Linked DNA regions of Homo sapiens: region 2 is linked to region 1. The links come from fine-mapping of genetic effects on gene expression. A gene starts in region 1. The other region holds a variant in brackets. All regions are shown on one strand. Distances are between the middles of the regions.

Region 1 (5,000 bases):
ATAAAGTGCGGAAGGGTTTCCTCCCTCTTCAAGAGTCTGCTGGGATTCCACTGTCATGGACAACATTTCATTCTTATGAAATTAAAATCTCACCTACAGGCAGGATTCTGCCAGTGCTTATGCTATACAGACATATGGAATGCAAATGTCCTCGGAGGAGCACACAGCCTTGTTGGCAGGATGAGACAGGATTCTTGAAAGCTGTACTAAATGTGACTGGTGCTGAAAAAAAAATGGATGTCTTAGGATATGTTCTTGCTTTTTAATGGAAAAAGAAACGTGAATGCATAAATATGTATAATGTGAGAATATCTTTCATACAAATAGGACATTAAATGATAGTGTCTATGGAAGCATGATGAGAAGATATGCTAGGAACGTGCTGGGCACAATTAGGGGCACGGTAGAATGTGAGATAGTCCAGGCTGTGAGTACGGGATCTGTAGCCAGAATGCCTGGTTGGAATCCAGCCTCTGTCATTTCTTTGCAGTGTGTCTTGAGAAAGTGACTGAACATCTCGCTGTGCCTCAGTTTCTCCCTCTTCTAAAAGAGGATGATGGGGTGCCTATTTCATACGGTTGTGAGGATTAAGTGATTTGATGCATATAAAATATTCAAGATGGTGCCTGGCATATGCTAAACACGAAGTAAATATAACCTATTATCATCATTATCAAGGACTTGCGGATAACTGATGCTACTGAGCCGATGGAGCGTGGTGTAGCAGAACAGCTCAGGTGCTAGAAATAGCCAGTCTCATTGACTCAACTGTGTTTCCTCAGAGAATCCCGATTCTCATTTTTCCTATCTGTAAATGGAAGGGAGGATAGCAAATAATAATAAATGTTATTTGGTGACTATTCTATGTGTTTATTTTGCAAGAGGCTCAGTGGGATATAGCCTACAGCTTTGCAGAGACATTGCTCAACACAGATGCATGGGATAGGGGTCCCATTTGGCTGAGAAAAGGTTATTGGAAATGGGAGACGAGGAAGGAGTTTTCCTCACCTGACTCTGGGAAGGGAAGAGAGTCTGGCCCAGATGGGTAAAGACAAGTGTGTTGGCATCTGGTAGACAGGGCCAGTGGCACACAACAGTGAACAGCTCTACTGCTGACAGCCAACAGGGACTTCGGGGTTTGGCTGCTGGAGATGGAGGACCTGGGCAAAAGAGACGTGAGGCCAAGAGAGCAGGTCTCAGAATGTGGAGCTCATGGAAGGAGAGAGGGAGGGCTAATCAGACTGCTCCTATCTGGCCAGAAGCCATGCCCCACACTCACCAGGCCCTACCCCTTTTCCTCTGAATCTTTAGCTCTTAGATCAGAAATAATCTTACGTGTCTTCAGGCTTGATCCTGGCCTGACGGACAGCAGCCTCTGTCGTGTAGCCTTTGGAGCTGATCATGGCAGTACCCAGGAAAAGACTGTCTGGAGAGGCTGCAAAAACCATGCTCACTGTTCCCAGTCCCCGTACAGACCATGTCAGAGGAGGACTGAGGGAGGCTCCTCTCTCTCTCTCTCTGTCACACACACGCACACGCGCACACACACACACACAGATACACGCGCACACACACACACCGTTTTGCCTGGCAGAACAGACTTATAACTTGCATAATACTGCAGCAGCCCACACTGTACCTCATCTCCATTTGGGTTCCACAACAGAAGGGAGCTGGAAGGAAATCAGCGACAATCTAACTCCACATGACAACCTGGCTGGACAACGAAACATCCAGCGGGGAGAAAGACACTGGAAATTACCCATACCTGAGCCCCATCCCAAAACACCTGAGTCAGCTTCTCTGACCATGGCCCAGGCTAGGTCATTTGCAAAGCTCTTGAGTGATTCTAAAGAACCACTGCTGTGAAAAATAAAAATGATTTCAGCAAAGAGAGAAAGGTGAAACTATTTTATTGGCACTGGCTGTGATGCTGGCTGTGAGCAGATGCTGGCTGTGGGCAGAACAGGGGAGAGGGCCATTGAGAGGCCCTTGTGACTGGAGAGTCCAATCAAACGTAAAGTGTGTGACAGGGAGGGACTCCTCCAAATTCTGCAGGTCTCTCCAGACTGGGGATCCCTAACACAAGAGGAAGTCTTATGCCCCAAGTGCCAGAATTCCAGGAAACTCATGCAATGAAACCAGTCCTCTTGTGTCAGAGTTTGCAGCTAGAAGCGGTTCAAGGGATGGAGGACTCTCTGGGAGCTGGAGTGGTACGCTGCAAAGAACCTAAATATGCCATAACTTCCTTTACTTCCCTCTCCAAGAATTTCCAATTGCTCTTCCAGCCTATTCTGCCTGACAGGTTAGAAAGTTTTCAATAGTTTTCAATAGAGGTTCGTTTACTTGCATTGAATTATCTCATGAAGGTCAGCTTGATTCGGGCACATTAAAGACAGAGTCGGAAGAACACATTTCCCTAAGTTTTATTCTAATGTACAACACATGTGATCATTTGCGATGGGGTCTAGGCAGACAAGGCAGGTAACAGGGAGTCCTTCCAACCAGGGGTTGGAACAAAGGAGGCTTGATTTGGTGACTCTTGAGACATTTGGCTCACTGCTGTGATGCTGTGAGAGATTAGCTGTGCAATGTTTGGGCTCCTTAAAAGGAAGTTTATTTAAAATAAAACTTACCTGCACGTATGTAACACTGTAGACACAGATCCTTCCCACAGTATATTTAATCTCTGCAGAATTCACTGGGAGGGGAGGGGAGCCAGTGGGACCTCTTGGCTATTACACAGGTTGGCACTTCCAGAGAGAACAGTCTTGGCATCACAGGCTTCAGGCATACTCAAAGCTCTTCTCCCTTCTGATTCCAGTTTCTCCATGCCCTGCAGGGCCTCTTGGGATTATTGTATTCTGGAAAGCAAACAAAGTTGGACACTGTCTCTTTAAATAATAGAGGCTGAGAACCTCTCAGGCCACCATGACATATCCCAGCATTGGACCAGCCCCTGAATAAACTGGAAAGACGCCTGGTCTGGCTTCAGTTACAGGGAGCACCACCAGGGAACATCTCGGGGAGCCTGGTTGGAAGCTGCAGGCTTAGTCTGTCGGCTGCGGGTCTCTGACTGCCCTGTGGGGAGGGTCTTGCCTTAACATCCCTTGCATTTGGCTGCAAAGAAATCTGCTTGGAAGAAGGGGTTACGCTGTTTGGCCGGGTGAGTTTTATTGGCAAACTGTGCCTCTGGGTGATGTGTGCCTATGCTTTACAAGAATTGCCTAATTTCCCACCCCCTGCAAGCCGCAAATGAAAAGGATTGCAGGAGAGATGGTGCATTTGTGTTGGAATTGACTGGAGATTCAGAGGGCTTTTTATATCCTTGGTTAAAAGGTGGATATATACTCTGGCTGGGGAGGTGGGGGGCCATCTGAGAGCATCTAGAAACCCTAATGCATCCAGATTGAAAGGAAGAAAGGAATCTAGATGCTTTTTCCCCCATGGAAAATAGCTGTGCACACACAGCTGGCAGGTGGCCTTGGTAAGCAGGTTAGGGAGAAGCTGCCACCTGTGGCAGAGCCTTGGCCAGCCGGGCTCTGGGTGTGGCAAGCCTGGTCAGCAGGCACTGAGTAGCACTTCCTCTGCCACCATTGAGAACCAGGCAGGAGGCCAGAGGCAGTGAGGGACAGATGGGTTGGGTTTACCTGTCTGGCAGTATATGGTGTGGCTGTGACCTGGGTGGTTATTGATTAAACTATTGGGTTCAAAAGAAAGGAAGAAGCGAGCTGTAGCACCCAATATATGCACTTTTCTGTATGTGTATTAGACTTTATTAAAAAGTTTATTTGAAAATCACAAAGGAAGGGAAAGAAAACCCTGAGTTAGATATGCTCATATTTCTAAAGTGCTTACTTAGAACAGTCCTGAGTATGTTGTGATCACATAAGTGTTGGTTAAATAAATAAATGTCCAAATGGCATAAAACAAAGTAATAATTTCTAGAGCAAATCTAACTTATAAAATGACCTGTGGAGGAAAGAAAACACTGCCATGTCTTTAGACTTTTTTTTCTACTTGCATATGCACTTTCATTTATAAATCTTTATCTATCTATCTATATCTATCTATCTATCTATCTATCTACCTACCTACCTACCTACCTATCAGAGTTACAAGCTACTTTAGTGCAGAGGTGGTCAGGTCTTCCCTGAAAGGTTGATGTGAGAGTTAAATGTGATATAATAATAGTGGTGGCAATTTGGGCACTGGGCCCTTATTATGTTGCAGACACGATGTTAACTGCTTTGTACATATTGTCTCCTTCAATCACCACCATAAACCTTTAAAGCAGGCATTACTATTTCCTTTTGCACCTGAGAAAACTGAAGCTCAGTGAACTTGAGAAATTGCCCAAATTCACAACAAAAGTAAGCAGGGTGATTAGGTTTGTTGGAGCCCAGAGCCAGAGTGCCTAACCACTGCACCATACTGCCTCTCACAGACCATGCATATAAAGTCCAGGCAAAGTGCTTGGCATATAACGGGCACTGTAAATGCAGTGTTTACAAGTACACTTCATTTTAATCTGATAACACGATAGTTTTAAAAAGATCATTGTTTGAAGATCTTTTTCAAATTTATTTTTACTTACCGTAAGAATATACAATTAGCTAAAATAGCAGCTCCTTTCAAATCGTAAAATAATATAGAATTATTTGAATCATTGAGAGTGATGAGCTTCTATGACACAGTACACTAGAGGTAGGGAAGTGTGTGTGTGTGTGTGTGTGCGCGCGCGTGCGTGAACTGCTGCATTTTCAGGCAGAAACCTTTAACATCCACATTCCTGCTCCCTGTCCCGTGCCTCAAGGCTGGCCTGCGCACGGGAGTCTCAGTTGGGCGCGCCTCTGCCAAGCCGAGACTGAAGGGGGCTAGCCTCTCTCCCTGTAACGCTGGGCGGGCCACGTTAGGAGGCTATGAATCAGCTGATTTCCTTGGCTGCTCCAACCCCACCTCAAATGGCCACCTCGCACCCGCCCGCCAAACCCCATGGC
Region 2 (5,000 bases), 35 kb after region 1:
TTTCAGGGTACATCTATTGCTTTACATGCAGACAATCTTGTAATAATATATTCCCTAAAACATCAGTCTCATGACAACAATCATATAAAGTGTGTATCCTCTCTTTGGCTTTGTAGATATCTAAGTTTACTGCTTATCACGGTTAAGCTTAGAGTCATTCACTTCTGAGATTCTACTAAGATGAAAGTCATACACATTAAGCTGTGTAGTTAGTCGCTGCACTTCTCTATACTGCCTCTTTCTATCCCTCTTGTTCAAGGATGGAATCTGGTATCTCCTCTTAGTCAGTGAAATCGGGGAGTAGCTGGTCCACTCAGCTCCTGAGGCATTTCTCATGCCAGATCTGGTTAGACAGCCCATTTGGGAGCCCTGCCTGCATGATGATAAGTGTTGTCCTGCCCTGCTAGCACTCTGTTAACACCTTTCTCTCTGCCAAGGTCATGTTTCCTTTTTTATAGCCCTGCCTTCATTAGATAAGTCAGACAGAGCCCAAGAGACAACTTCAGTATTTCTTAAAGACAAGAGTTAGCACTTTGGAGATGCAAGCCGTGGAAGAGTGGGGCAAGATAATTAAGGATCCTGGACCTCAAGGCAAATAAAGTGTGTCCCCAGCAGATCAAAACTGCTGTTTTCTGCAATCAACAATTAACCCGCAATGATTTCGCTCCTGACATGGCCATCTTTGCTGTCTTCTGAACTTCCTGTAGGTGGCAGGTCCTGGATGCTGTCCCATTTTGGTTCCAAGACTATTGTGTGGCTCTCTTGACAGGGGCCAGTCAAGTGGCAGTTTTCTCCTCTGAGTTGCAGGAGGACAGGCTTAACAGGGTGGTTCATGTGGCGTATTCCCACTTCTGCACTGTCTTCAAACAAAGTTGCAGTGTCCAGTAAAACAGCAGCCCAAATAGCAGTGAGGTTAGATGTAGGTGGCCGGGCGGTGGGGGGGCGCGGGTGCATTGGGAACTCTGGAACTGCATGAATCCCACACGGCATACTGGATTTATAATAGAGTCACTCAGAGCTTCTCAAAGACCCTGTTTTCAGGGAGGAAACAGACCAGGCTTTGTGCAGCTCCAGGCTGGGGTGCTGACATCACTGGACCCCTCCTTGTGGGGGGACGCTGTCTGTCACGTGAGCTGGGGCCATCAGTTTGAGCGTGGCTGCTCCACAGGGCCCAAGATGGAGGCTTTTCTTCTCTTTCCAACACCGAAGGGCTGCATTGGTGGGCCAGGGAGGGTGGCCTGACCCACCTGCATATCCAGTGCCCTTTAGCCTTCTTTGGGCTTCAAATGCAACCTTGGGGCACCCAGGGAAATGGAGCTTGCCTTTGATCATCTTCCCCCTCTGCAGCGTGGCTTCCCAGTCATACTGTCGGCTGCATCCTTATTCCTCACTTTCTTTTTCCCTCTCCACACATTTCTTTGTCTGTTTGGCAGTGCCCATAGGCATTGCTTGCTTCACCTGGTATGTGGCAACTCTGTTAGGGGGACCATAGGCCCCTGTGGTCTGCATGGAGCTTAATCCTTTTACCATGGCGTGACTCCAATAATGGTAAAATGTCACTTCACTTCCATTGGCTTTAGGTAATGCCACCACTCACTTGTAGAGTGGCATATAGATTTCCAGGGGTTTCCATACCCAACCACCCTTGGAAAGAGACAGGTAGGTTTTTCTTGCAGCCTGAATGCCTGCTGGCCATGTAGTGTGGCCTGGGAATTGGTGACAGTGAAAGAAAGAGAAATAGGGCAGAAAATGTAAAGAAAACCCTCAGGTATTAAGGCCTAGGTGGCCAAGATTGGAAATAGAGAGCAAGTTGTTTTCCTTGTTCCCATATTTTTGTGCTACCTCCTTTCAATTCTGGACCTGGAAGCAGATTTCCTTCCAGAGGTAGAAATGTTCTTCCTACCCAGCAATTGTCAGCATCCGGGGTGGCGGAGAGGGGGCCGCTCTGCCATGGACTCTCCGTCACCCAGCTTGTCCCTCTCCTTCCCCAGGTCTGTGCGTGATGAGTGCTGCGGCCATCTACACGGTGAGGCACCCGGAGTGGCATCTCAACTCGGATTACTCCTACGGTTTCGCCTACATCCTGGCCTGGGTGGCCTTCCCCCTGGCCCTTCTCAGCGGTGTCATCTATGTGATCTTGCGGAAACGCGAATGAGGCGCCCAGACGGTCTGTCTGAGGCTCTGAGCGTACATAGGGAAGGGAGGAAGGGAAAACAGAAAGCAGACAAAGAAAAAAGAGCTAGCCCAAAATCCCAAACTCAAACCAAACCAAACAGAAAGCAGTGGAGGTGGGGGTTGCTGTTGATTGAAGATGTATATAATATCTCCGGTTTATAAAACCTATTTATAACACTTTTTACATATATGTACATAGTATTGTTTGCTTTTTATGTTGACCATCAGCCTCGTGTTGAGCCTTAAAGAAGTAGCTAAGGAACTTTACATCCTAACAGTATAATCCAGCTCAGTATTTTTGTTTTGTTTTTTGTTTGTTTGTTTTGTTTTACCCAGAAATAAGATAACTCCATCTCGCCCCTTCCCTTTCATCTGAAAGAAGATACCTCCCTCCCAGTCCACCTCATTTAGAAAACCAAAGTGTGGGTAGAAACCCCAAATGTCCAAAAGCCCTTTTCTGGTGGGTGACCCAGTGCATCCAACAGAAACAGCCGCTGCCCGAACCTCTGTGTGAAGCTTTACGCGCACACGGACAAAATGCCCAAACTGGAGCCCT[T/C]GCAAAAACACGGCTTGTGGCATTGGCATACTTGCCCTTACAGGTGGAGTATCTTCGTCACACATCTAAATGAGAAATCAGTGACAACAAGTCTTTGAAATGGTGCTATGGATTTACCATTCCTTATTATCACTAATCATCTAAACAACTCACTGGAAATCCAATTAACAATTTTACAACATAAGATAGAATGGAGACCTGAATAATTCTGTGTAATATAAATGGTTTATAACTGCTTTTGTACCTAGCTAGGCTGCTATTATTACTATAATGAGTAAATCATAAAGCCTTCATCACTCCCACATTTTTCTTACGGTCGGAGCATCAGAACAAGCGTCTAGACTCCTTGGGACCGTGAGTTCCTAGAGCTTGGCTGGGTCTAGGCTGTTCTGTGCCTCCAAGGACTGTCTGGCAATGACTTGTATTGGCCACCAACTGTAGATGTATATATGGTGCCCTTCTGATGCTAAGACTCCAGACCTTTTGTTTTTGCTTTGCATTTTCTGATTTTATACCAACTGTGTGGACTAAGATGCATTAAAATAAACATCAGAGTAACTCACTGGTCTCTCTTGAGTTTTTGTGGGAACTTGGGTGTGGGTACAAGGTGCCTGTTGGAGCAGGATGAAGAGCTTCAGTGGAAAGCAAAGTTGAGCTGGAGATTTGGGTTACAAGATGGTGCTAAGGCACCAAAATCATAGCTGTTTTACAAGCTACAGGGAGCACATGATGCCTTCATGATGTCTGTGCAAAGGTTTGCTAATTGGAGACAGTTGGGAATTGCAGCTGAAATGGAGGCTGTAAATGGACTGGAAGGCACTTGAGTATTCATTTAGTTCAACCCTCTCTGGTGCTCTGTTGTTTGATGACCCACATGGAAAACATGGAGGCATGTCATGAGCTGCCCTGATATACTGGGAATGTTGGCAGAAGCATCTCAGATCCCTCACCCTGAGGTATGATATGGTGAAAGGTCTGAATGATGGTGACTTGAGGCCACACTTGCAGATAAAACATTGGTTGGCACCAACTAAGCTCCTAATGCCATCCTGAAGGAGAGAAAAGGCCACCATTGTCACCCAGCTCAGGGTTTCTGAGTTGTGTCTCATGCGTCCATATTTTTACCCGTCGACCTTTTGTTGTGTGTCTGCAAAATAACAAGCAAATGATGTGGTTGATAGTCCTTAATATTTATTGTGCAACTATTTTGAATTGGGTACCAAAGATAAAGAAGTAATGACATATATCTTAACATCGAAAGGTCACATTTTAGTGAGAGGTACAAGTAAACAAGTGACTATATTATAATAAGGTTAAGAGCATAGAAATGAGAGCCTGGGTTTGAGCCTGTCCTTTGCTGCTTACCAGCCATAGGGGCCTGAAAAGGTTACGTAAACACTAAGATTCAGTTTTCTCATCTATAAAATGGGGATGCCAATAACAAGGGTATAGGGCTGAGGGGATTTCAAGGAAGTTATATGGATAAAGTGTTCAGCATAGTGACTAGTACCTAGAAAGACTCTATAGATTAGAGTGGTTATCACATATGTTACAACAGAGGTATATTTGAAAGAGCATGTAGGAGAGACATTGACTGTTATGCAGGATTCTCAGTATCAGTCTGCACACTGGAATCTCCCATGCAGGAATTCCCATTAGAGATTTGGATTCCCTGTTTCCATGATGGGACCCACCCATCATGGTTTAAAGAACACTTCTGGTGATTACAGCATGCAACTGGGGATGACACCTCTGAGCTAGTGCAGGAGGTCTCATACTTCAACATGCTAGTGAATCACCTGGGAATCTGATAGCATGCAGATTCTGAAACTTTAGGCCCAGGTGGGGATTGAGATTCTGCATTTCCAATTAGTGCCTGGGTGAGGTGGATGCTGCTTGTCCACCGACCACACTTTGAGTAGCAAGGGCCTAGCATAAAGCCACCTTCAGGTACCTTGTGCTCTTCTGTCCTTGGGTGTCTGTGACGGAAGGACTTCTCTTTTCTGAGGTTTTCAGTAGTGACTGCTACTCTGCTTTTGACTCAGATAGTTTTAAGGTGGCACAGGTGGCCATGAGATGCATGTGAGATTAAGAAAACTAGGAATTTTATTTCACGAGCTGGTACTTTGAAAACATACACTTTTATTTCATAAACTTTTCTAACATTTCATTAAAAATTAATAGGGATAAGAATAAAGAAGAAAAGCAAAAACGGCCCCTAAATCTCCCTACCCAGGTAACACTCTTGGCATTTAAAAAAAAACCATAT

The links. PIP is the estimated chance that this variant, and not a neighbour inherited with it, causes the effect.
Region 2: its variant is fine-mapped to the expression of PMP22 in prefrontal cortex (CommonMind, PIP 0.95).

What each region holds. Positions count from the first base shown.
Region 1 is chr17:15,263,320-15,268,319 of GRCh38, reverse strand. It overlaps PMP22 (peripheral myelin protein 22), which reads left to right and starts at 2,994. Exons shown (of 5, transcript NM_000304.4): 1 at 2,994-3,166. It overlaps LOC124903931 (a long non-coding RNA gene), which reads right to left. Exons shown (of 2, transcript XR_007065632.1): 2 at 2,411-2,864.
Region 2 is chr17:15,228,072-15,233,071 of GRCh38, reverse strand. PMP22 (peripheral myelin protein 22) reads left to right here. Exons shown (of 5, transcript NM_000304.4): 5 at 1,992-3,293. The coding sequence ends at 2,155. Among named protein-coding and RNA genes, the nearest start is that of MIR4731, 21 kb to the left of the region's middle. The variant T/C (reference allele first, on the strand shown) is at 2,732.